7 linked regions of the Homo sapiens genome follow. The gene in region 4 interacts genetically with the main gene of each other region. Each region holds a gene or a part of one and is shown on either strand. Other genes may lie near its edges.

Region 1 (3,500 bases), on a different chromosome or scaffold from region 4:
ATTGGGGAAGTGATAAATGTCCATGAAATCTTCATAATTTATGTTCACAGATTGCAGTAAAGACAGGCGTAATAAATTATGAAAGTATTAATTTGGGGAACTAATAAATGTCCATGAAATCTTCACAATTTATGTTCTTCTGCTGTGGCTTCAGCCGGTCTCTCCATTCGGGGTCCCTGACTTCCCGCAACATCATCTATCTTATATCACTATAGAGGGTCGTTTGGTTTTCTCCAGCACATCTGGGCCTAGATTTGAATTGAAGTCTAGGAAGCAGATGGTTGCATTGATCTGAGGTTATGTATGGTCTTTTGCAGGGTGAGTGCACTGAAAGGAAAAGAGATAGAGGCCACACGGGAAAATGGCCAAACTGATGTATATAGTGATACAGTAGTAGGATATGTGTGACCCTGGTTTGATCATTTTGTTTTCTAGCTCAGAAATCTTCAGTGGCTCCCTGGCTTAGGTTCTAAATCTTTGAACTGATGGACAAAGATGAGGTTTTTCCCATAAAGCTGGTTCCAGCTGCTTTTCCATTGCTTTCCTGTTGGACTCATCTATTCATAATGGCTCCCTCTTTGGTTTTGCACTGGCAGTTCTCTGCTTAAATGCCCATCCTATTCCCAGCTGCCTTAATCCTATGCAGCTTTCAAAGGCCCAGTTCTAATCATGCTTCCTCAGACAAAACCTCCTTGACCACTTTAACCTGAAAAGAGTACTAGTTTTTTAGTTTTTTTCAGTATCACGTATTTAGAGCTTGTACTGCCTTATCTTTTACATTGTTTGTTCTATATTTGTGGATTTTATTTCTGCAACTACATTTCTTTTTTTTTTTTTTTTTTTGAGACGGAGTCTCACTCTGTCGCCCAGGCTGGAGTGCAGTGGCACGATCTCAACTCACTGTAACCTCCACCTCCCTGGTTCAAGTGATTCTCCTGCCTCAGCCTCCCGAGGAGCTGGGATTACAGGCACCCGCCACCACACCTGACTAATTTTTTGTTAGTTTTAGTAGAGACGGGGTTTCATCATGTTGGCCAGACTAGTCATGAACTCCTGACTTTGTGATCCACCCGCCTTGGCTTCCCAAAGTGCTGGGATTACAGGCGTGAGCCACCGCGCCTGGCCTCTGCATCTACATTTCTTAAATTTCTTTAGCGCTACCATTGCACCTGCACGCTATCTTTTGCCAGGAAGGTTCTCCCTAAGCATTTAGTAACTGACTATAGAGTCTGACAGATGGAGAGGAAATTAATATTTGGGGCGGGGGAGGGGTTCTGTTTGTTTTGTTTATTTGTCTTTTGAGACAGGGTCTCACTCTGTTACCCAGGCTGGAGTGCAGTGGCACAATTTCAGCTCGTTGCAACTTCAACCTCCTGGGCTCAAGTGATCCTCCTGCCTTAGCCTCCTGGGTAGCTGGGACTAAAGGTGTACATCAGCATGCCCGGCTGATTTTTGTGTTTTATTTTTTGTGGAGACTGGGCTTCGCTATGTTGCCCAGGCTGGTCTCAAACTCCTGGACTCAAGTGATCCTCCCACCTCAACCTCCCAAAGTATTAGTATTACAGGCGTGAGCCACCATGTCCAGCCAGGGATTCTTACTTTGTGCTCAGCACTGGGTAGAGTGCTTAATATCACTGCTTCTCAAACTGTCTTGGTAAAGGACCAGGTAGATTTTTCCCTCAAGCTGTTGCAGATCAGTAGTGTTCTAAAAGCACTTCTGTAAAATAAAATTACTAGAAAAATAACATTTAAAAAGACATAGAGAATACAGGCTTTTTATTATTATCATCATTAGATTCAACAAACATTGGCTGGGTGCAGTGGCTCATGCCCGTAATCCCAGCACTTTGGGAGGCCGAGGTGGGTGGATCACTTGAGGCCAGGAGTTCAGCAGCCTAGGCAACATGGCGAAACCCCATCTCAACTACAAAACACAAAAAAATTAGCCTGGCATGGTGGCACAGGCCTGTAATCCCAGCTACTTGGGAGGCTGAGGCACGATAATAGTTTGAACCCGGGAGGCAGAGGTTACAGTGAGCCAAGATCACGCCACTGCATTCCAGCCTGGGTGACAGAGGGAGACCCTGTCTCAAAACAAAACTGTAAACTGCCTGTCAAATTGCCCTAAGATGTTCTAAGTGCTAATGCTTTCTTTCTGTACTTACCTTGATGCAGACTGCTAATAGTTTGTGGATTGGCAGTGGTCTGAAGACCAAGGTTTGAGTAGCATTGCTTTACATGATCTCATTTACACTTCCCTAATATCTTGTGAGGGTGGGTATTATTATTATTTCCTCAGTATACTGATAAGGAAAGAGATTTAGTTAAGCCACCTGCTCAAGTTCACCAGTTTAGTACCAGACAGAATTGGAATTCAAGTGCTAGATGCCATTTTGTTCATACTACTGGGTCTCAAAGAGGATCCTTGGAGCAGAGTTGGTTTGGGGCAGGTAGAGTGTTTTGTTTCGTCTTCAAAAAGTAAGTTTATTTGGTCGGGCGCAGTGGCTCATGCCTGGTATCCCAGCACTTTGGGAGGCCCAGGTGGGCAGATCATGAGGTCAGGAGTTTGAGACCAGCCTGGCCAATATGGTGAAACCCCATCTCTACTAAAAATACAAAAATTAGCTGGGCATGGTGGCGCGTGCCTGTAGTCCCAGCTACTTGGGAAGCTGAGGCAGAAGAGTTGCTTGAATCCAGGAGGTGGCGGTTGCAGTGAGCTGAGATCGTGCCACTGCACTCCAGCCTGGGCGACAGAGCAAGACTCTGTCTCAAAAAAAAAAAAAAAAAAAAAAAGGTTAATTTGAATTGCAAATACATTTAATATTTTATCTGTTGTTTTCTTTTGGTTCTTGCATTTTAATGCCTCCAAGTATTGATTTCAGATGCATATTGCTTCATCTGAACTGCTTGATACTTAGTTGAGTAGGAAAAGTAACTAACATCCCTTTTAAATGTCCAGTTCCATTGGCTCTGTGGTGTTTGACAAAGTTCTCACCTGGTCTATGATGAAATGTGAAAATAAAGTCAATGTAATGAATTTTTTCATGAAGTCATATTTATTAAATTTGAAGGACAGTATTTTATCCTGAGATTTTTGTCTGTAGTTTTTTTGGTGTTAAAATGGTAGAAACAGAATGCGTATAGTAATTGTGTGGAGTGTTGTTTATAACGGCTGTTTGAGATATAATTCATATACTGTAAAATTCACCCTTTTAAAGTGTACAATTCAGGCTAGGTGTGGTGGTTCACACCTGTAATCTCAGCACTTTGGGAGGCCAAGGCAGGAGGATTGCTTGAGGCCAGTCAGGAGTTTGAGACCAGTGTGGGCAACATAGGGAGGTACCAGCTCTACACAAATTTAAAAATTAGCCAGATGTGGTATTGAATGCCTGTGGTCCCAGCTGCTTGGGAGGCTGAGGTGGGAGGATTGCTTGGGCCAAGGAGTTGAGGCTATAGCGAGTCATGATTGATCTGTACTCCAACCTGGGCTGGTCAACAGA
Region 2 (3,500 bases), on a different chromosome or scaffold from region 4:
TCAGCCTCCCAAATAGCTGGGACTACAGGCATGTGCTACCACGCCTGGCTAATTTTTTTTGTATTTTTAGTAGAGATGGGGTTTCACCATGTGGGTCAGGCTGGTCTAGAACTCCTGACCTCAAATGATCTGCCCACCTCGGCCTCCCAAAGTGCTGGGATTACAGGCGTTGAGACACCGCGTCCTGCCAAAAAATTATGGTAATGTTTTATTGCACGTTTGGGTAGAAATGACAAAGTTTTTGGGGTCCCTGCCTTTGAGATGCTTTTACTTGTAGGTGGTGGAGACAATCAAACACAAATTGCACAAAGCTATAGGAGAGGGGGGATAGACCAATATTTATCTAAGACCGCACTGGATGTTAGATATTGTCAACTTATAGATGTGAATATATTTTTACATTTTTCACTAGGGAAATGTTGCTTTTGGACGTGTACATATAGAACTAATTGAAGTATTGAAGCCAAATCTGGGAAGGTTTCTTTTAGGAAGAAAAGAGCAAGTGGAGACACAATATTTAAGACTTTTGGAATTGAAAGGCATAAGGGACAGATAAAATTACGAAGCTGGTTTGAAGGGAATACAGATAGAGGTTGTTGAGTAGTGTTAGGGTCAGTTGTGTTTGTGTAGACACATGATTACAGTTCAAAGAAGCAACTGAGAAGAGTGTTCCTGAGAGTAATTTCAGATGACTGGGGAGAAATTACATTTTAGGTAAAAGCTGTATGCCTGGATTAGGATTTTGTTTTTCTAGGGAACCAACATTTTTATTATATCGTGGCTATCCAGGGCTATACAGAAGGAGGAGTGAAAAAGAAGATGCTTAGTGTGTTGAAAGTGGCTTCTTACAAAAAAGAGTTTAGAAATGGGACAGTAGACTTTGCTTTGGATGTGAAATTTTAGGGCAACAATTGGATACTGGTGCAGTTTCAAAACAGCAAAATAGTTTAGCAGGTAATATACTGAAAATGTAAAGTTGGAATTATTTTCAAAGTATTTAGGTTTCCCAGAGTACTGATGGAAAGTGAAGAGCTGAAAAGTGGGTATTTTTAGTTAGGGGGAAAATCTGAATGAATGAGACACTACCTAAAATAGATGTTTTAGAAGTGGATAAGAGTTGAAGTTAAAAAGGAATGAGCAGGCTTTAAACATGGCCACCAGTTTAGTCCCAGGGTATATTATTCTGTATTTTTGAAACAAGCTAAAATTTTTTTTTTTTTTTAAATAGGGTATATAGGTCCCTTGAGATTAAGTTCAGAAGAGTATACTTAATAATAATTTCATTGTTAAGGAATTTATAAATAGAAGGACAGATTTGTTTCCTCAAATTCATGTTTTAAAGTTCACTGTGCATTATTATCCTACGTTTGGTCTTGATATGACGAAGTGAGGCCAAAAATAGCTGACAGAGAAGGCTGCTTCCCTTGTTCACAGTTGGTGTGTGTCTTTGTGTCCCATACAATGGAGGGGATATCCCTGTGTAGGCACAGTAGTGCTGAACATGCTTTTTTTTTTTTTTTCCTTTTAAACTTTTTATTAAAAAAAAGCAACTTGGCATTTAAAAAAATGTAGACATTTTTGCGGCTTGCATTTAGTATTGACTTTAACAGGATTAAGGATTGTGAGGAAGGAAATATATATTCACACTTTTTTGTGTTCCTTAGTTGGAATTCTGCACCTTCCTAGTAGCTTCTCTGACTTCTTAACAGTGATTATTCAAATGGCAGAAACTCTGGGGAAGAGATGTTTCAACAAGGAGATAGGTCTAAGGTGATTCTAGGGTGAAAATATAGGGATTGGATTATATGCCATATGGAGGCCTTCTCTTGTCATCCTCCACTTTCCACAACATTTTTTGTGCAGTCGAAGCCATGTTCAGATGAATTTTAGAAGGCAGCCACTTATAGTTAATGTTATTTACTAGTGAGGACAGTGGGAAGAGTGGTAACTTCATGTACTTTGCCTTGGCAACTTTTGGATTGATAGGGAATTAGAGAGCCTTGAGGGTATATGTTTGTGTGTGTGTGTGTGTTTTAGCACCCACCAGATGACCCCAAAGGCCATGCATAGGCTCATTTCATTGTACTTTGGAGATGGTTCTTGGAGAAGTCTTCTGGTGCTTCTGACATCTCATTGTGTAGAGAAAGAGTTGGCAAACTATTTTTGTAAAGGGCCAGTTAGTAAATATTTTAGGTTTTACAGGCCACATGATCTGTCACAACTTTCAATTCTGTTCTTATAGTGTGAAAGCAGCTGTAGACAACAAGGAAGTGAATGAATGTTGCCGTGCTCCAATTGGCCCATAGGCCGAAGTTTTTGGACTCCTGGTATAGACAACTGCCAAATCCACCAACAAACAGTATGAGCTTTATTACACTACAAAGCCAGGACTGGCTATTTTTGGTGGTCTTTGTTTTCTAGATGAGATGTTTTTCTCTGAGTTCATTTAAAATGATTCTGCATAAAGCACATACTCTACTGTACAAAATACTTTTGCCTTCATGGTGATGAAAACTATGGATTGAGGGTCGGGGTGATACCATCTTTAAAGGGATGCAGCTAAAAAGTAGGGACTACCTGCATTTCTTATCTAAAGATAACCACAGTTGGCATTTAGTGATATACTGGCTTTGTATCATGGCCAAAAGTATCTGTAAAGAAGCTTGTGGGCATACTTTTGAAACCTTCTGAAAATAAATGTAAAGCATTTACTTCGTGTGTAAAATTAGAAGTGTCTATGGTTGGTTTGAATAATATGAGTCAAATTATAAGAGCATTAAAGTTTGATACTGCTATCTATTAAAGTCTTAATCTCTTGCAGTGGCTAATTCAGTGTGTAGAATTACACATCGCAATTTTTGTTTTGTTAATTTCAAGTACTAGTGTATATTAACAAATCACTTAAATCATTTAAATGTGTACTTTAAAAAGCTTTGATGTATATACATATATATACGTATATATATATATGTACACGTATATATATACACGTGTGTGTGTGTGTGTGTGTGTGTGTGTGTGTATTTTTTTTTTTTTTGTGACGGGGTCTCATTCTGTCACCCAGGCTGGAGTGCTGTGGTGTGATCTCAGCTCACTGCAACCTCCACCTCCTGGGCTCAAGTCATCCTCCTACCTCAGCCTCTCGAGTGGCTGGGATCACAGGCATGCGCCACCATGCCCGACTAATTTTTTTGTATTTTTGATAGAGATGGGTAACAACTTTTGGATTGATAGGGAATTAGAGAGCCTCGAGGGTATATGTGTGTGTGTTTTAGCACCCACCAGGTAACCCCAAAGGCCATGCATCATGTTGCCCAGGCTGGTCTCTTAACTCCTGAGCTCAGGTAATCCATCTACCTCGACCTCCCTCAGTGCTGGGATTGCAGGCGTGAGCCACCACACCTGGCCAGCATTGCTATATTTTTAAGAGTGAATCTTTCTCACATGTGTTGTTCAGAAAGTGTAATTCACTTTGTGCAATTTTACATTACAGTTAATAT
Region 3 (3,500 bases), on a different chromosome or scaffold from region 4:
AACATTAGATTATTTGCCTTTTGTTATTTACATAAAGCATCTTAAAAATGTTGCATATGATAGAAATGTCATGCCATCCTATATGTAGAAAATGTCTCGCTCAGTAACATCACTTAAAACACAAATGATACTTTTGGAGGACAATTAGTATTTATTAGTATTCTTGGCCTTAGACACCAATTTGGGTTTCACAGGACTTGATCTTTTCCTCAGCCGGTCAGGAGCGATATCTGGATGTGCACGAAAGCCAAGAAGAGAAGAATTTCATGGCTTAGGGCTAACATGGGGTAACGGTCATGCCGATGGTTAACCCTAGAGCTCCTGAAAGTAAAGATGATGCCAAAGGGCCCATTTCCTCTTGCTCACAATTTGTTTAAGAAGAAAGTACAGAAATATGCTGGGTAAAATAATTACTTGACTTTTACTAGATGGCACCTACACTGATTTTGAAAAAGCCTGTGTTTTATAGAGCACTCTTGGTAACAGTCTCAGATGTGATGCAGTGACTGTCTGCCATGTTTTTGTACAGAGCATGGAAAAGGCCCTTGAATCATAGGTGTAAATGTCCCTTAGAGGAGGGCCTCCTGCTGATTGCCTGAGTTATATTCCCCCTGGACCAATATAGGGGCATCTCAGCTGAAGTACCCTATTCCTTCTTGAGCCAAAAGAATGCCCACAGGGACATGGTTGCTGAGGTAACCAGAGGCAGGCATTCCATTCTTTAATTTTGCTTGAGCATCCTTGAGTTAGTGAAATAGAATTGGTTTTCTTTTTATATTTTTAAAAGAACTTTATTCAGAAAATTGTAAAATAGTATCCCATAGTTTTTGAGCATGCATGTGTTCTAGAGTTAGTTATGGGGCCCTTGTCATTACTAGAGTATATTAATATTTTTAATACTTGTGCTTTTTTCTCATTGGTTTTGTAGGTTAGTATTTATTTACCAGTCTTGAAGACTATGAAGAGTGTTGTGGAAAAAATGAAAAACATCAGCAATCACCTTGTAAGTCACAACTTCTTTAGAAAAGAACTCTGAAGTATTTGGTGGGACGGCGTGGGTTCTCCAGCTCACCCTGCAGCAGTCCATGCAGGTGGGCACCTCCTAACCGAGTTCCCACTTATGAGGACCTGGCCTGGTGCTGAGAACCTGCAGATTGCTAGTTGGATTTAGAAACCTATTCCAATACTTTTCAACTCTAATTCTTTGAGGAAAGCTTTTATATTTGCCTTTAATCTGCCTGTTTTTCCTCTTATATTTTGTATGAAACATTGTATCTTTCTTTTTTTTTTTTTTTTTTGAGACAGAGTCTCACTCTGTCGCCCAGGCTGGAGTGCAATGGCGCCATCTCACCTCACTGTAAGCTCCGCCTCCCGGGTTCATGCCATTCTCCCACCTCAGCCTCCCGAGTAGCTGGGACTACAGGCGCCTGCCACCATGCCTGGCTAATTTTTTGTTTCGTATTTTTAGTACAGACGGGGTTTCACCGTGTTAGCCAGGATGGTCTCGATCTCCTGACCTCGTGGTCCGCCCGCCTAGGCCTCCCAAAGTACTGGGATTACAGGCGTGAGCCACCGCGCCCGGCTGGAACATTGTATCTTTTACCTGCTAACGTGCCCGTATTTTTCTGTGAGTCACTGATATGACTGACAGTGAGTTTGGAGTTTCCTGTCTGCGTGCCAAGTGTCTTTCAGTGAGCCAGGGACAAAGATATGCCACACCATAGCAGCCTTTATTCCAAGCACACCTCACACCAAGCTAGGGGGCACTTTTATATTTCTGTTTATTTTCTGTTTATTTTGTGGAAGTCTCCTATGGCCACATGGCTCGAAATGTTACAGTGTGTGACAGTGGTGGGAAATGTGTAGGTTATCCTCATTCATACCTGGGGTTATTGTGAATTCTTCCTTCACTCACTGCCCCTCCCTCCTCCCCCTGCTCCCTCCTATCCTGCTCCAAAAAACACCCTTGGTTATGTCCCTGAATCTTCTAAAAACCACTGTCCACCTGATGAAGCATAAACTTTTGATCTTGACAGTGTACCAGGCCACCTTTATAGCCACATCTCTGTTGTATTGCCACACCCTCCCTGCAGAACGAGGCTGGGTTCTGGTATTCCCCCACAATGCCTCTTCTTTTTTGTTCAGTTTCTTTGCCATTTGACACATGGCTTCTTCTCTCCATCTCCCTGGAAGGCACTTAGCCATTCTCATGCTTCATCACAGACCTTTCCCCACCACCCCTCTGGAAGCTCCTCCATGGAGCTGAGCTGTCCAGTGTACATGGTAAATCACCTGCTAAGATCTCTGAAGGTCTCGTGAACCACCAGCTTCTTGATAAAGGAAACCCCATCTTAATCATCTTTGTGTCCCAGCTGCCCAGTGTGGGATTGCCACTCAGTAGGCAGCAATAAGTGTTGCATGGATCTGGAACAAAATTTAGCTTCAAGAGGTCTTTGAAATCACAAAAGTATTTTGAAGCCTAGAAAATGTACATTTGACTGTTTTTTTCTAGAGTTCTGCACACTAAGAGCAATGCTGTCATTGGACCTGGGTAACTCAAAGCTTTTCCTTCATAACTTAATCTATAAAATCTGTTTTCCATGAAGCAGTGTGCACTGTGCTGACGTTGGTGTCACCTGTGACTGCAGTGATGCTGATCCAGTTGTCAGGCTGGCTTCATCTGGGGATACCCTGGGGACTTCCAGAGAAATTCAGAGAGGCCCAGGAGAGAAAAGACAGGGCTGTTAATTGAAGGATGGCATTTGTTTGTTCTTTCTGTTCAATGAAAATGAGTCAGCAAGGTAGAGAGGTAGAAGGGTAGCTTAGAATCATCAGAGGTGTTTTGTTTTCTCTTTTTTGGAGTTTAAAAAAACATAGAAATATTGTGGAGAGGCTACTACGATCTGGAATTACTAAATGGAAAGTTATCAAGTTACTGTAGCAAAGTACATAATGAGGTCTTCCTGGGTATCCAGAATTCTGTATCTGAATATTACAGGCAGTAGAATTAAGGAAAATGGGTAGACTTAACACACTAAAAATGCCCACCTTCCCATTAGAGATGCCCAGTTACTTCCTTTCATTAAATGCGAGGTGTGACTGATGGGGTGGGTTGTATGTGACTCATGCAGGAGCAGAAAAAGAAGCAAGAACTGGAGGGAATTGACATCATGTTCTAAGACATTGCTTCTAAGTTCTACCATGCGTGTGAATCCCCTGGAATCTGGTTAAAGTGCAGGTTCTGATTTGGGAGGTCTGAGCTGGAGCCTGAGGCTCTGTTTCTGACCAGCTCCTGGGAGATGTCGATGCTGCCTGTCTTCAGACCACATCATGTAGCAGTACTTTGTGATGTGTGCCTGTATTACTCCGTTTTCACGCTGCTAAAAAGATATTACCTGAGACCAGGTAATTTATAAACAAAAGAGGTTTAATTGACTCACAGTCCTGTATAGCTGAGGAGGCCTCAGGAAACTTACAGTCATGACAGAAGGCAAAGGGGA
Region 4 (3,500 bases):
AATATGTTTTGAGCACATACTGTATTGCCACTAGGTGGGGAGACAGACATGAAACAATCGCCCAATTACAATTGGCTGACTACAATTTTTTTTTTTTTTTTTGAGGCAAAATCTTGCTTTGTTGCCCAAGCTGGAGTGCAGTGGCATGATCTCGGCTTACTACAACCTCCATCTCCTAGGTTCAAGCGATTCTCCTGCCTCAGCCTCCCGAGTAGCTGGAATTATAGGTGCCTGCTGCCATGCCCGGCTAATTTTCACATTTTTAATAGAGATGGGGTGGATTTCACCATGTTGGTCAGGCTGGTTTTGAACTCCTGACCTCAAGCAATCCCCCCACCTCGGCCTCCCAAAGTGCTGGGATTATAGGTGTGAGCCACCCTGGCCTGATTACAAATTTGATAAGATCTGCAAAGGAGAAGTACAGGTTCCTATGAGAGTGTATAATGGGAAAATCTAACCTCTTTTGGGATCCTCAGAGGAGGCCTATGGGGTATTTGCATTTAAGCTGGGAACTGCAGGATGTCAGTGTAGAGTGGGCAAGAGTGGTGGAGGCTGGGAGTGTGTAGATTACCCACTTTCCTACTGACCCTTGCTTGGTGAGCATTGAATAAAACCAAGCTTTGAAGGAACCGTTGAATAATTTTTTCACAGTTCTTGGATATAGGCTAGTCTTTGTATATATCTTTAATTCCTTAGGATTAGCCATTCCAGAAGTAGAATTACTTGGGCAGATGGTTAGCACATATTTTGAGGTTTCTATGAGATATTGTTCAAATGGTGTACTCATTTCTTCTACTTTCAGTGACATAGGAAATTATTATTTTAATGTTTGCTTTAGTCAGTTTTTTTTTTTTTTTTTTGAGACAAGAGTCTCACTGTCGCCCAGGTTGGAGTGCAGTGGCGCAATCTCGGCTCACTGCAGGCTCCGCCCCCCGGGGTTCACGCCATTCTCCTGTCTCATCCTCCAGAGTAGCTGGGACTACAGGCGCCCGCCACGTCGCCCGGCTAATTTTTTGTATTGTTAGTAGAGATGGGGTTTCACTGTGTTAGCCAGGATGGTCTCGATCTCCTGACCTCGTGATCCGCCCGCCTCGGCCTCCCAAAGTACTGGGATTACAGGCGTGAGCCACCGTGCCCGGCCGTTTAGTCAGTTTTAAGACACAGATATAGCCTATTATTTTATTTACTGCTTCCATATTGCTTATCTTGTTTTAGAATATTTAGATAACCTTTGTACTTTTAAAGTGTTACAAAGAGTACCTTTTTACACTGGAAAATAACTTCATTAGATACAAAGAAGCTAAATGTATACAACTATTAGAAAAATATCTCTAGTGGTATATAGAAGATAATTATGTTATAATTATCTAGGGCATACTATGGAAATATTAATTTTTTTGGAGGTCCTTCTAATACATCTGTGAAGACTTCTGCAAAACTAAAACAGCTAGAAGAGGAGAATAAAGATGCTATGTTTGTGTTTTTATCTGATGTTTGGTTGGACCAGGTGGAAGTATTGGAAAAACTTCGCATAATGTTTGCTGGTAGGTCTTATTTTTTTTCTTCTTTCTTGAACTCTTTTAAGGGTTCATGTTTTAAAACTTTTTGAGTATTCTATTTATCTTTTTGAGTATTCTATTTAAAAAAAAACAGAGTTAGCAATGAGATAATTTAAATTAGATTTCATTTTAAAGACTTAAATTTTTACATTAAGAAAAAAACCTGTGTGTGTGTGTGTGTGTGTGTGTGTGTGTGTTTATAGTCATGATAAGTAAGAATTAGTCCTGAAGTTCAAGACCAGCTGGACAACATAGTGAGACCCCATCTCTAAACAAAAACAAAAACAAACTGGGTTTAAGTGCAAGCCTATTACCCTGGGCAGGTTACTTAACCTAAGTCTCAGATTTTATGGATGTTCTGAGGAGTAATTAAGCCAATGCAGGCCTGGCCTATAGTAAGTGCTCAATGAATGGCTACTGTTATTAGTATTATTTTAATAAGTTATTAAAATGTTATTTTAATTAAAATAAATTTTTATTATTAGAAAGTCATGGTTAAAGGGTTTTTAACTTGATTTGTAGACTAGAAAAGTATTGTTCATTTACTCTTTTATTGTTTAGGTTATTCACCAGCACCTCCAACCTGCTTTATTCTGTGTGGTAATTTTTCATCTGCACCATATGGAAAAAATCAAGTTCAAGCTTTGAAAGGTATTAACGATCTATTTAATAAGAAGTGTTTCTATAGTCATATAAACTAAAGTAATAAGAAATTATCCATAATATTTTAATTAAGAATATACAGGATTGTATCTAATCAAATATAATTTTATGGCATTATATGCAAATTTAATTCAATACCTTTTTAAAATTTTAGATTCCCTAAAAACTTTGGCAGATATAATATGTGAATACCCAGATATTCACCAAAGGTAATGATCTCTAGCACTATATATTTTTTCACCGTTTTACTTAAAAAAAAAACAAAAAATGAATTTTGTTATATCAGCAATTATTACAAAACTAAGGAAGAAAGATAAAGTTGAGAAAATTAAAAGAACTAAGAGATAAAGTTATCCTCACATTGTACTAGAGGTTTATAATGAAAAGTATTGAAAGGGATAGAGGTAATTTCAGCCATACTTGGAATTTCTTCGTGGCATTACTCTTAAGAGTCTAGAGCTTCACTCTCCGATATGATAGTCACTGGCCACATGTCTCTTTAAATCTAAGTTTAATTAAATTTAAATATAAAATTCAGTCCATCAGCTATGCTAGCCACAATTCAAGTGTTCAATTGGGCAGTGCAGATATAGAACTTTTCTATCATGACATTACTAGACAGTGTTGGTCTGGAGACTTAATAGTTCATTTATTATAATGCATGAAATTTAAATGTTTTTTAATTTTAAAGAGAAAACAAAGGGAATAACTTGCTTTTAAGCTATTGGATAGTGTTACAATAATATTTTTAAATGAATTGTGTTGAATTTTGCTACAGTAGTCGTTTTGTGTTTGTACCTGGTCCAGAGGATCCTGGATTTGGTTCCATCTTACCAAGGTAAGTTTTGTTCAGATTTTTGCAACAGTGTAGAAAATTTTGTAAAACTTAAAAAGATAAACTATATCACATAAATTGTTTTTATAGGCCACCACTTGCTGAAAGCATCACTAATGAATTCAGACAAAGGGTACCATTTTCAGTTTTTACTACTAATCCTTGCAGGTAAGAATTAGTATTTTGTGTTATACATTTTTCCTTTCATTTAAAAATTAGCCAGGTGTGGTGGCTCATGTCTGTAATCTCAGCACTTTGGGAGGCCGAGGCAGGCAGGTTGCTTGGAGTTCCGAGACCAGCTTTGGCAACACAGTGAAACCCATCTCTACAAAAAGTACAAAAATTAGCTGGGCTTGGTGGCACGCGCCTGTGGTTCTATGAAGAGGCTGAGATGGGAGGATCACTTGAGCCTGGTAGGTGGAGAGGTTGCTGTGAGCTGAGAA
Region 5 (3,500 bases), on a different chromosome or scaffold from region 4:
AGCATGATCTCCATTCACTTCAACCTCCGCCTCCCAGGTTCAAGCGGCTCTCATGGCTCAGCCTCCCGAGTAGGTGGGACTACAGGCGTGTGCCACCACACCCCACTAATTTTTGTATTTTTAGTAGAGACAGGGTTTCGCCATGTTGCCCAGGCAGTTCTCAAACTCCTGGCCTCAAGTGATTCACCCACCTCAGCCTCCCAAAGAAAAAAAATGTTTGCCAAATAAATAAAGCTTCCAAGTGTAGTTTTTGTGAACATTTATCAAGTTGACACTGTTATGTATACTTTTCTGAGTGCAAAAATTAAAGACAATGTTTGCTGAAGGTTTCTACAAAATACCCTTTATCGGGTTGAGAACATTCTCATTTTAGTAAGAAGTTTTTTTATTTTTAATTTTATCTATTTATTTATTTTTTATTTTTTTGAGACGGAGTATCGCTCTGTCGCCCAGGCTGGAGTGCAGTGGTGCAATCTCAGCTCACTGCAACCTCCGCCTCCCGGGTTCACGCCATTCTCCTGCCTCAGCCTCCTGAGCAGCTGGGACTACAGGCACCCACCACCACATCCGGCTAATTTTTTTTATTTGTAGTAGAGATGGGGTTTCACCGTGTTAGCCAGGATGGTCTCGATCTCCTGACCTCGTGATCCGCTCGCCTCAGCCTCCCAAAGTGCTGGGATTACAGGCGTGAGCCACCTCGCCCGGCCTAGTAAGTTTTTATTCTGTTTTAGTAGAAACTTTCATCATGAAAGGCCATTTGCTAAATTTTACCAAATGCTTTCTCTGTATCTATGAAAACTATATAGTTTATCTTTAATTTCCTAATGAGTGAATGACATTTACAGATTTTCTAGTTTAAACCATGCTTGTATTCCTGAATAGACACGTGGTCAAGACACACTTTTTATTTTATATGATTCTAGATCCATATGGTAATTTTTTTTTTTTTTTTTTTGAGATGGAGTCTTGCTCTGTTGCCCAGGCTGGAGCGCAGCAGAGCGATCTCGGCTCACTGCAGCCTCCACCTCCCGGGTTCAAGCAATTCTCCTGCCTCAGCCTCCCAAGTAGCTGGGATTATAGGCGCCCACCACCATGTCCGGCTAATTTTGTATTTTTAATAGAGACAGGATTTCGCCATATTGGCCAAGTTGGTCTTGAACTCCTGACCTCAGGTGATCCACCCGCTTCAGCTTCCAAGTGCTGAGATTACAGGCATGATACACTGCGCCCATTCCCAGGATATGCTAATATTTTACATAGGATTTTTGCATCTATTATTTAGGTGTGAGACTGACTAGCAATTGTTTCTTATGCCATAATGGCCTTGACAGGTTTTGCTATCAAAGACATTGCTAGCCTAATAACACAAGCTAAGTAGTATTCCCTTTTAAAAATTTCTCAGGGAGAGTTTAGCTAATATTACAATATACTCCTTGCAAGTTTTGTGAAATGAATCTGTAAAAATAACATAGGTTCGGTGCATTATTTAGAATAATTTAAACTACTTACATTGCTCTAAGGTATACTGCTAAATTCAGGCATTCTATTTTCCTTTCATTTTTTTTTTTTTTTTGAAACATCATCTCATGCTGTCCCCCAGGCTGGAGTGCAGTGGCCCAATCTCCACCCACTGGGTTCAAGTGATTCTCATGGCTCAGTCTCCCAAGTAGCTGGGACTACAGATGCCCACCACCACGCCTGGTTAATTTTTGTATTTATAGTAGAGACGGGGTTTCGCCATGTTGGCCAGGCTGTTCTCAAACTCCTGGCCTCAAGTGACCCACCCACCTCAGCCTCCCAAAGTGCTGGGATTGCAGGCCTGAGCCACCGCACTGGGCACTTAGTAAGTTTTTAAAAATGTATTTACCCAGATCATTTAAATTTTTTATGTACTACCATGGTCTTATTATCATCCCTTTTTTTTCTTATAGCCTATTTAATCTCTGCTATCTGTATTCCCCGTTTAGTTCTCACTTACTCCTCTTCTATTTTGTAATCAAATGTGCTCTTACTTCAATTAATATCCTTCCTTCTCATTCTTTTTTTCTTTCTTTCTTCATTTTAAGACAGGATCTCACTATCACCCAGGCTGGAGTGCAGTGGCACTATCTCGGTTCACTGCAGCCTCAACCTCCCAGGCTCAACTGATCCTCCTACCTCGGCCTCCCAAGTAGCTGGGAGTACAGGTACACCTGGCTCATTTTTCTATTTTTTGTAGAGACACGGTTTTGCCATGTTTCCCAGGCTGGTCTCAAACTCCTGGGCTCAAGGGATCCTCCCATCTCACCCTCCCACAGTGCTGGGATTAGAGGCATGAGCCACCATGCCCACACCATTCTCATTTCTTAAAGTGTATTCTGTGGTTCATTTTCTAACTTAAATTGGATTCTTAGTAAAGATTTAGTAATTAATGTTCAGCCTTTCTTCATGTATGTAAATCTGTAACTTTTTGCCAACCACCACATTCAATACATTCTGGTATAGCATTTTCATCATTATCAGTACAGAGTATTTTTAACTTCCATTGTGATTTCTTTTATAACCAATGGGTTATTTGTAAGTAAATGTTCACATTTCCAAATATAAAGATTTTTATCGCTTAGTTACATGGCTGTCTCCAATATAAGACTAAGTTTCCTGAACAGTCATGGCCACATTTTTTTTTTTTTTTTTTGAGACAAATTCTCACTCTGTTGCCAAGCTGGAGTGCAGTGGCGCGATCTCGGCTCACTCCAACCTCCACCTCCTGGGTTCAAGCAATTCTCTTGCCTCAGCCTCCCGAGTAGCTGGGATTACAGGCACTCGCCATCACGGCCAACTAATTTTTGTATTTTTAGTAGAGATGTGTTTCACCATGCTGGCCACGCTGGTCTCAAACTCCTGCGCTCAGGTGATCCGACCACCTCAGTTTCCCAAAGTGCCGGGATTACAGGTGTGAGCCACCGCACCCGGCCAGCTACATTTAACCTAAGAAATACTGCAAGAAAGCTACTAAAGCATCCCTTCACCATATTTAAACATCCTGAGTTCAATCTCTTCAAGGTAATTAAATAAAAATGACTCCATTTTCCATCATCAGTACCGAAAAGCATGCCAAGAAATATACACTCTTACTTGAACAAGTACTTTGCCCAAACGATGCAATGTATAGGTTCTGAAGGTGTGTTACGAATTGTACAGCCAGGAAAGGTTCTCTGGGTCGGCTTAGGATGACACTCATAACACTCGGTCACACCCTATGAAGTCAGGATATGAGAAAAATTTACTCCATGATGGCAGTTTCTCAACATTATAAGGTAATATAAACACTTCATTCATCTATATTCCAACTACGTTTTACGTTGTCAAGGAAATTTTAAAATATTAGTGACTCCAAAATGCTTACTTTATGATAAACTAACACAAAAGCTAACTGAATCTACCAGTCATAGCTAAGGCTGTGCCAGGACGCCGACTCCTGGTTCAGTGAACATGACTTACAAGCCCAAATAAAAATTACT
Region 6 (3,500 bases), on a different chromosome or scaffold from region 4:
CAGGAAAGGCCAATAGCCAATATGAGCACATGCTCTATCGATTAGGTACAATGCCCCAAATAAACTTGTGCCTAATTAACAGCTGGGTCAAATTTGAAAATATACCAGGTAGAATGTTACAAATTGACCTTAAAAACTCATAAGCTCGTCTTATTCTTTACCAGAGTCTACTTTAGGCACTCTCTCATTCAAACTCCTGGTCTATTCTCTATTTTACACTACTCTCTAGTATCTCCACTGACTTCTGACATGGATTCTAAACCACACATAGATGACTTAATGATCTTTGAACTTATACATGAAAATTCAGATATTTCAATCACCGGTTTGTTGCTGAACTCTCAGGGCCTGGTGAAGAGAGAACCTGAGCCCTGTTTCTGTTTTACTATCATTGCCACGTCACCAATTGTTTGGCAAATGCTGAGGAAATGAATCCAGCTCCCTATTCATGTCAGTTGGAAGAGGAAAAGGTAGGCCAATAAGAGATGACGAACAAGCATTTTGGGAAATACTTGCCTAATATACCAAAGAATCCCAGGATAACGCTTAGGCTTAGCAAACATACCTTAATCATTTCTGTGCGTTGGCATTCAGGATCACGACCAGCCATTGGCAAGATTCTAATCTTCTGTGTCTTTGAACACCTATCTGCAAGTGACAGAGTCATCTTTCTATGTGTGGCACTGTCCGTAGAGTGAGGTCTGCCAGGAAATAAACGAAGAGCATATCACTGTTTACCAAATACATTTGTGAGCCAGTGATACCCACGTCACAGAAGTAAGAGCCCAGTGACCATTTCCTAGTCACCTGAAAAAATAGGCAGAGACACTCGACTGAATATACCAAGGTGGAAGATTGTGAGTTTTCTTCATTCTGTGGCTCACTGAGACATTCTTATTCCACAAATGAAAAACAGAAGGTTGGAGTAAAAAAGATTGTATGGCATGATCACCTTCTAGAAGCAATAAATGGATACGCTCAAGCAACATTAATTAGATACTACAGGTTGGTGCAAAAGTAATTGCGGTTTTTGCCATTACTTTTAATTAATATTAATATATTAATATTAATATAATTATCCTATTTTATAGATTTAGGAAACTGAGGCAAAAAGAGGTTAAGAAAGTGGCACAAGGTCACACAAGTAGAAATGGAATTCAAATATGAGTCTAACTGATTCCAAAGCCTGTATGTTAACCTTTATAATTTCAAAAAGCTAAATCATAACCAACATTATTGTGCCCCCTCTAAAGATAAGCATTACCCAAAGAGGATGGTCTGCTTATAATCAAGAAAGAGAAGCATGAACATCTCAGTGCAGCACATACTCAGTCTAGAGAAGGAAAGTGCCCTCACCAGCTGAGTATTCCTGTCCTCTTGGGGGACACACCTCTGCAGTGGTATTAGATGCCGGGGCCTACGGCACTGAGATGGCCCGTCTCACACTGACCAACTTGCTGGCTTTCCTTCGATTGCATGCACAACAACAACCTCTAGTTATTAGTCTCCCAGGTCAATTTTACTAAAAACAAAGGACACACTGGCTAGCAGACACACGTATTTTAGGCCTCTTGGCAGTTATAATAACCACTGGAATTAAATACATTGACATTCTGGTTTACCTAACAGTCTCTTGTAAGTCTGGTTAGCATGACCTGGTTCCCTAAGAAACAGCAACTTTTAGTGTATTTGACAAAATAACCTTTGAACCTTCAGAACTATGCACAAGATCTTGGTTCTTGCTGAATCATACCGTGGGGTTACATCAATCAGGTGGCAGGCATTACAGAAACATCTATGTTTCACTGCTTTTACCATAAGAAATAATACATAATAATAATAACAGTTACCTGAAGGTGAGTTTCGTTTTAAAGACTGCTTGTCCCTGTAGACCAGTACCTTGTCTTATAAAAAGATGATTGTGGTCGCCCTGCAGTGGGGCTTTGTACACATCAAACACTTCATTGCCTAAATGCAGGGACATGCTGGAAAGAGAAACATTTCATCTATTAAAGTCATAAAGCTTTCACTCTACCATCTTACTTCACTTAAAGGTGATTCAGGCTGGGCACAGTGGCCCACATGTGTAATCCCAGCACTTTGGGACACCAAGGCAGGTGGATCACGAGGTCAGGAGTTTGAGACAAGGCTGGTCAACATGGTGAAACCCCATCTCTGGTAAAAATACAAAAATCAGCTAGGCATGGAGGCACACCCCTGTAGTCCCAGCCTTCGGGAGGCTGAGACAGGATAACTGCTTGAACCCGGGAAGTGGAGGTTGCAGTGAGCCAAGATCGTGCCACTGCACTCCAGCCTGGGCGACAGGACAAGACTCCATCTCAAGGAAAAAAAAAAACAAAACAAAACAGGTGATTCAACTGCTGCTCTCTCTTTTTACACAGAATTTGGAAGGAACGAAAATAAGAAGTCATAATGAGAAAAACTGATGGACTACAAAGAACTAACACATGCTGGGATGTTTACCAGGCTCTACTACATTCCCAGTGAAGGGCAATTTTTTTAAAATGTCAATTTGTGGCTGGGCACGGTGGTTGACGCCTGTAATCCCAGCACTTGGGAGATGGGAGGATCGCTTGAGCCCAGGAGTTCAAGACCAGCCTAAGCAACATATGGAGAACTGTGTCTATGAAATTTTTTCTTTTTTTTTTTTTTGAGACGGCATCTAGTTCTGTTGCCCAGGCTGGAGTGCAGTGGCGCGATCTCGGCTTACTGCAACCTCCGCCTCCTGGGTTCAAGGAATTCTCTGCCTCAGCCTCCTGAGTAGCTGGGATTACAGGCGTCCGCCATCACACCCAGCTAATTTTTAGTAAAGATGGGGTTTCACCATCTTGGCCAGGCTGGTCTTGAACTCCTGACCTCGTGATCCACCCACCTCGGCCTCCCAAAGTGCTGGGATTACAGGCGTGAGCCACCGTGCCTGGCTCTTTTTTTTTTTTAATAATCCATGCAGGGTGGTGCACACCAAGTAGTCCCAGCTACTTGGGAGATGGGAGGATCACTTAGGACTAGGAGTCTGAGGCTCCACTGAGCTGTTATCATGTCATTACACTCCAACATGGGCAACAGAGTGAGACCCCATTTCTAAAACTAATAATAAATTTAAAACTAAAAAGTATTTCAAAACTTGATCCCTCTGACCCGTTCTGGGTATGTCAATACCCTTCAGGCGTTTTGTGCTCACCTTCCATCTGACCACTTGACTATCCGAGCATTGCTTTCTTTAATTTCATTTCCTTCTTCATCTCGGCGTATCCTCCATCTTATAGTATTTTCTACCTGTTTCACAACACAAGTACTTTAGAAAATTATAGTTTAAATGACTCTATGCATCTTGTTTTTCCTCAAGAGGCACATAATCACAGAATAAGCATACAGAGGTGACAGATGTATGTGTGGCAGGAGAATGAACAACACTGAAACCCTCTTTAATCACCTAGAGAGGTTGGATAAATTAAAAGCAGGGAAAAAAATATGCTTAA
Region 7 (3,694 bases), on a different chromosome or scaffold from region 4:
CAAAACAAAAGTTAGAAGAAGATGCTGAAATGGTAAGTATATATTACTGCTATCTAGTACATCTGTAATTCGAAGTTAAATGAATAGCTTTTAAGTCTGAGGACTTTTTCAAGAAAATACGTAAGCAAAGCTATCTATAGTTGTTATTGCATTAAGTAATACATCAGGTATTATATTGAGGGAAAAGAGAAAACTAAGGATAGGAAATATGTTCTAAAATATGGAAAAGGCCGGGTGCAGTGGCCCACGCCTGTAATCCCAGCACTTTGGAAGGCCGAGGCGGGCAGATCAGTTGAGGCACGGAGTTCGAGACCAGCCTGGCCAATATGGTGAAACCCCATCTTGACTAAAAATACAAAAATTAGCCAGGCGTGGTGGTGCATGCCTGTAATCCCAGCTATGTGGGAGGCTGAGGCAGGAGAATCACTTGAACCCAGGAGGCGGAGGTTGCAGTGAACCAAGATCATGCCACTGCAGTCCAGCCTGGGTGACAGAGTGAGACCCTGTTTAAAAATAAAAAATATAATAAAACACAGGAAAATATATTTTGAAATATTCAGAAAAAGTTCATTTATGCCTAGAACTTATTTTTATGAGAAAATGTCCTATAACTTCTAAAGATTCTAATCATAGGTTAATACTAACATGACTTTTATTTTTGACTTAATAAGATACTGATGTGTATTTCCATTTAGAAAGTTACAGGTAAAAATTTTTATTTGGGGAAAATAATGACTATAAAATTTTTTTTTTTCTTTTTTTGAGACCGAGTCTCACTGTTGCCCAGGCTGGAGTGCAGTGGCGCGATCTCGGCTCACTGCAAGCTCCACCTCCCAGATTCATGCCATTCTTCTGCCTCAGCCTCCCGAGTAGCTGGGACTACAGGCGCCTGCCACCACGTCCGGCTAATTTTTTGTATTTTTTTTTAGCAGAGACGGGGTTTCACCATGTTAGCCAGGATGCTCTCGATCTCTTGACCTGGTGATCCGCCTGCCTCGGCCTCCCAAAGTGCTGGGATTACAGGTGTCAGCCACTGCGCCCGGCCTAAAAATTTTTTAAAGTATGATAAATACTGCCTAGAATTATTTTCCAAGATAGTTTAATAGCCAGATTTATGTAGTTTATAACTAATTAAATACCAGTTGTATAAGAGATCAAATAATATTGAAAGCCATTTTGGAATAAAGGATGACAAAGGAAAACACCAACACTATGAAACTACTTTATTTATTTATTATTATTATTATTTTTTGAGATGGAGTTTCGCTCTTGCTGCCCCGGCGGAAGAAACTACTTTAAAATAGCATTTTGGTTTCTAGTCTTTTTCTTGTATAGCTATAAGGTGGTGTGAGTCATTTCTGGTCTGTTGTTGCTTTTAAGAAACTTTTTGATCACTTTGTATATTTTTATAGAAATCTCTAGAAGAAAAGATTGGATGCTTGCTGAAATTTTCGGGTGATTTAGATGATCAGACCTGTAGAGAAGATTTACACATACTTTTCTCAAATCATGGTGAAATAAAATGGATAGACTTCGTCAGAGGAGCAAAAGAGGTTTGGATACATCCCTATCCTTTTTAGCAATCAGTTTGAAAATCTGTAGAAACTTAGACAAAATTAGTAGAAAGTAATTTTAAAAATTGTGTTTATTAAATTAGTTTCTACTTGATCATTTGTTATTGCCACTAGATGTGATGTCTGATATTTTCTGAATTATACTAAATTAGTTTCTACTTGATCATTTACTTTGTTGTTATTGTCACTATATGTGATGTCTGATAGTTTCTGAATTATACTATGAATAACTGTTCATACTGATGATTGCAGTTTTACTTCTGTAGCATTCCTTTTCTACTGTTCAGTAAAATTCATTCAAACTGGTAAAGACATGGAAGGTTTGCAGGGTAGAAAAAATTACTTTGGACAAAGAAATTAATTGTGGGACTAAAAACCAAGGGTATGGCTTTTGTTTTCTGTCTCTGGTATAGGGGATAATTCTATTTAAAGAAAAAGCCAAGGAAGCATTGGGTAAAGCCAAAGATGCAAATAATGGTAACCTACAATTAAGGAACAAAGAAGTGACTTGGGAAGTACTAGAAGGAGAGGTGGAAAAAGAAGCACTGAAGAAAATAATAGAAGACCAACAAGAATCCCTAAACAAATGGAAGTCAAAAGGTCATTTATTCTGATTTTTCTTTAACAGTTTGGTTGTTGAACCCATTTACTTGAGCAAAAACTTTAATCAGTGTTCAAAAACATTGACAAGAGACTTAAAAAAAGTTCTTTACAGAGTGCTCAATTGTGTCTCTACAGGTCGTAGATTTAAAGGAAAAGGAAAGGGTAATAAAGCTGCCCAGCCTGGGTCTGGTAAAGGAAAAGTACAGTTTCAGGGCAAGAAAACGAAATTTGCTAGTGATGATGAACATGATGAACATGATGAAAATGGTGCAACTGGTAAGTTTTTTTTAAGTCCTTTGGTAGTTTCATGAGAAAATTTCTACTTCCATAAATAAATGATTTGCCAGAGAGAATAGGGATTTGGCTTTTCAACTCCTGGATAAGTGCCATTCTTGGATTATTAACGATTTACCTCGGTTATGCTGTTGTATAAGTCAGGGACAGGATATTTGGAAGATGAATCTAGAGGTCAGGTCTGTACTAAGAGAAAAGCCTTTTCTCATTGGTGCAAGGAAGTTGTTGCATCTTTTTCAACAGTATCATTATTAGTAATTGTGCTCAGTATTAAACTAGAGCAGTACTTACGTTGAATTTAACAAAAATTAATTGTTACGTTATAGGACCTGTGAAAAGAGCAAGAGAAGAAACAGACAAAGAAGAACCTGCATCCAAACAACAGAAAACAGAAAATGGTGCTGGAGACCAGTAGTTTAGTAAACCAATTTTTTATTCATTTTAAATAGGTTTTAAACGACTTTTGTTTGCGGGGCTTTTAAAAGGAAAACCGAATTAGGTCCACTTCAATGTCCACCTGTGAGAAAGGAAAAATTTTTTTGTTGTTTAACTTGTCTTTTTGTTATGCAAATGAGATTTCTTTGAATGTATTGTTCTGTTTGTGTTATTTCAGATGATTCAAATATCAAAAGGAAGATTCTTCCATTAAATTGCCTTTGTAATATGAGAATGTATTAGTACAAACTAACTAATAAAATATATACTATATGAAAAGAGCAAAAACAGTTTTTGATTTTTTTTTTCTTTTTGTACCCAAAGCATTTAGGAAAGAACTAGAATATTAGCTATTGACGATGGGCCTTTCCCACAGGCCATTTATGGTGTCTCCTAGGCTGGCTTTGTATATTTACACAGGAAAGTTGGTAACACTAGAAATAATTACTTGTCACAAAGCTTTCCTTTTTTTTTCTTTTTCGAGACTGAGTCTCACTCTTATCGCGCAGGCTGGAGTTCAGTGGGGCAATCTCAGCTCACTGCAACCTCTGCCTCCTGAGTTCAAGCGATTCTCTTGCCTCAGCCTCCCGAGTAGCTGGGATTACAGGCATGAACCACCACATCCGGCCCAGAAAGCTTTTCAATACCGAATGTAGACCAGCCAAAATCAAGAGACTTACTGATTTCTTTTTGTGAAACTTGTATGATGCTGGCAGGTCATATCGAAGTTCTGTAAAACAAAAGCCACCTAAGGATAAAATTGTATTTCCAAGCGTTTACCACCCTTG

The links.
Region 1: changes in POLE2 (region 4) and TIMELESS together harm fitness more than expected from each alone (negative genetic interaction), as found in Homo sapiens cells (one large-scale study listed by BioGRID).
Region 2: changes in POLE2 (region 4) and FBXW7 together harm fitness more than expected from each alone (negative genetic interaction), as found in Homo sapiens cells (one large-scale study listed by BioGRID).
Region 3: changes in POLE2 (region 4) and HUS1 together harm fitness more than expected from each alone (negative genetic interaction), as found in Homo sapiens cells (one large-scale study listed by BioGRID).
Region 5: changes in POLE2 (region 4) and UBA2 together harm fitness more than expected from each alone (negative genetic interaction), as found in Homo sapiens cells (one large-scale study listed by BioGRID).
Region 6: changes in POLE2 (region 4) and LEO1 together harm fitness more than expected from each alone (negative genetic interaction), as found in Homo sapiens cells (one large-scale study listed by BioGRID).
Region 7: changes in POLE2 (region 4) and SSB together harm fitness more than expected from each alone (negative genetic interaction), as found in Homo sapiens cells (one large-scale study listed by BioGRID).

What each region holds. Positions count from the first base shown.
Region 1 is NC_000012.12:56,439,427-56,442,926, reverse strand, and holds part of TIMELESS (protein timeless homolog), read left to right. Parts: intron 1-3,500. UniProt on the Homo sapiens protein: Plays an important role in the control of DNA replication, maintenance of replication fork stability, maintenance of genome stability throughout normal DNA replication, DNA repair and in the regulation of the circadian clock.
Region 2 is NC_000004.12:152,529,593-152,533,092, reverse strand, and holds part of FBXW7 (F-box/WD repeat-containing protein 7), read left to right. Parts: intron 1-2,242; exon of another isoform or gene 2,243-3,500. UniProt on the Homo sapiens protein: Substrate recognition component of a SCF (SKP1-CUL1-F-box protein) E3 ubiquitin-protein ligase complex which mediates the ubiquitination and subsequent proteasomal degradation of target proteins.
Region 3 is NC_000007.14:47,973,116-47,976,615, reverse strand, and holds part of HUS1 (checkpoint protein HUS1), read left to right. Parts: intron 1-928; coding exon 929-1,003; intron 1,004-3,500. UniProt on the Homo sapiens protein: Component of the 9-1-1 cell-cycle checkpoint response complex that plays a major role in DNA repair. The 9-1-1 complex is recruited to DNA lesion upon damage by the RAD17-replication factor C (RFC) clamp loader complex.
Region 4 is NC_000014.9:49,653,715-49,657,214, reverse strand, and holds part of POLE2 (DNA polymerase epsilon subunit 2), read left to right. Parts: intron 1-1,371; coding exon 1,372-1,544; intron 1,545-2,120; coding exon 2,121-2,210; intron 2,211-2,376; coding exon 2,377-2,431; intron 2,432-3,000; coding exon 3,001-3,060; intron 3,061-3,147; coding exon 3,148-3,225; intron 3,226-3,500. UniProt on the Homo sapiens protein: Accessory component of the DNA polymerase epsilon complex. Participates in DNA repair and in chromosomal DNA replication.
Region 5 is NC_000019.10:34,438,381-34,441,880, reverse strand, and holds part of UBA2 (SUMO-activating enzyme subunit 2), read right to left. Parts: intron 3,237-3,500; coding exon 3,115-3,236; intron 1-3,114. UniProt on the Homo sapiens protein: The heterodimer acts as an E1 ligase for SUMO1, SUMO2, SUMO3, and probably SUMO4. It mediates ATP-dependent activation of SUMO proteins followed by formation of a thioester bond between a SUMO protein and a conserved active site cysteine residue on UBA2/SAE2.
Region 6 is NC_000015.10:51,951,279-51,954,778, forward strand, and holds part of LEO1 (RNA polymerase-associated protein LEO1), read right to left. Parts: intron 3,298-3,500; coding exon 3,203-3,297; intron 1,986-3,202; coding exon 1,851-1,985; intron 702-1,850; coding exon 566-701; intron 1-565. UniProt on the Homo sapiens protein: Component of the PAF1 complex (PAF1C) which has multiple functions during transcription by RNA polymerase II and is implicated in regulation of development and maintenance of embryonic stem cell pluripotency.
Region 7 is NC_000002.12:169,808,871-169,812,564, forward strand, and holds the end of SSB (lupus La protein), read left to right. Parts: coding exon 1-32; intron 33-1,412; coding exon 1,413-1,553; intron 1,554-1,987; coding exon 1,988-2,174; intron 2,175-2,312; coding exon 2,313-2,453; intron 2,454-2,797; coding exon 2,798-2,886; 3' UTR 2,887-2,949; coding exon of another isoform or gene 2,950-2,988; 3' UTR 2,989-3,194; downstream 3,195-3,694. Other genes in the region: rRNA N(6)-adenosine-methyltransferase METTL5, read right to left, coding at 2,950-2,988, 3,587-3,636. UniProt on the Homo sapiens protein: Binds to the 3' poly(U) terminus of nascent RNA polymerase III transcripts, protecting them from exonuclease digestion and facilitating their folding and maturation.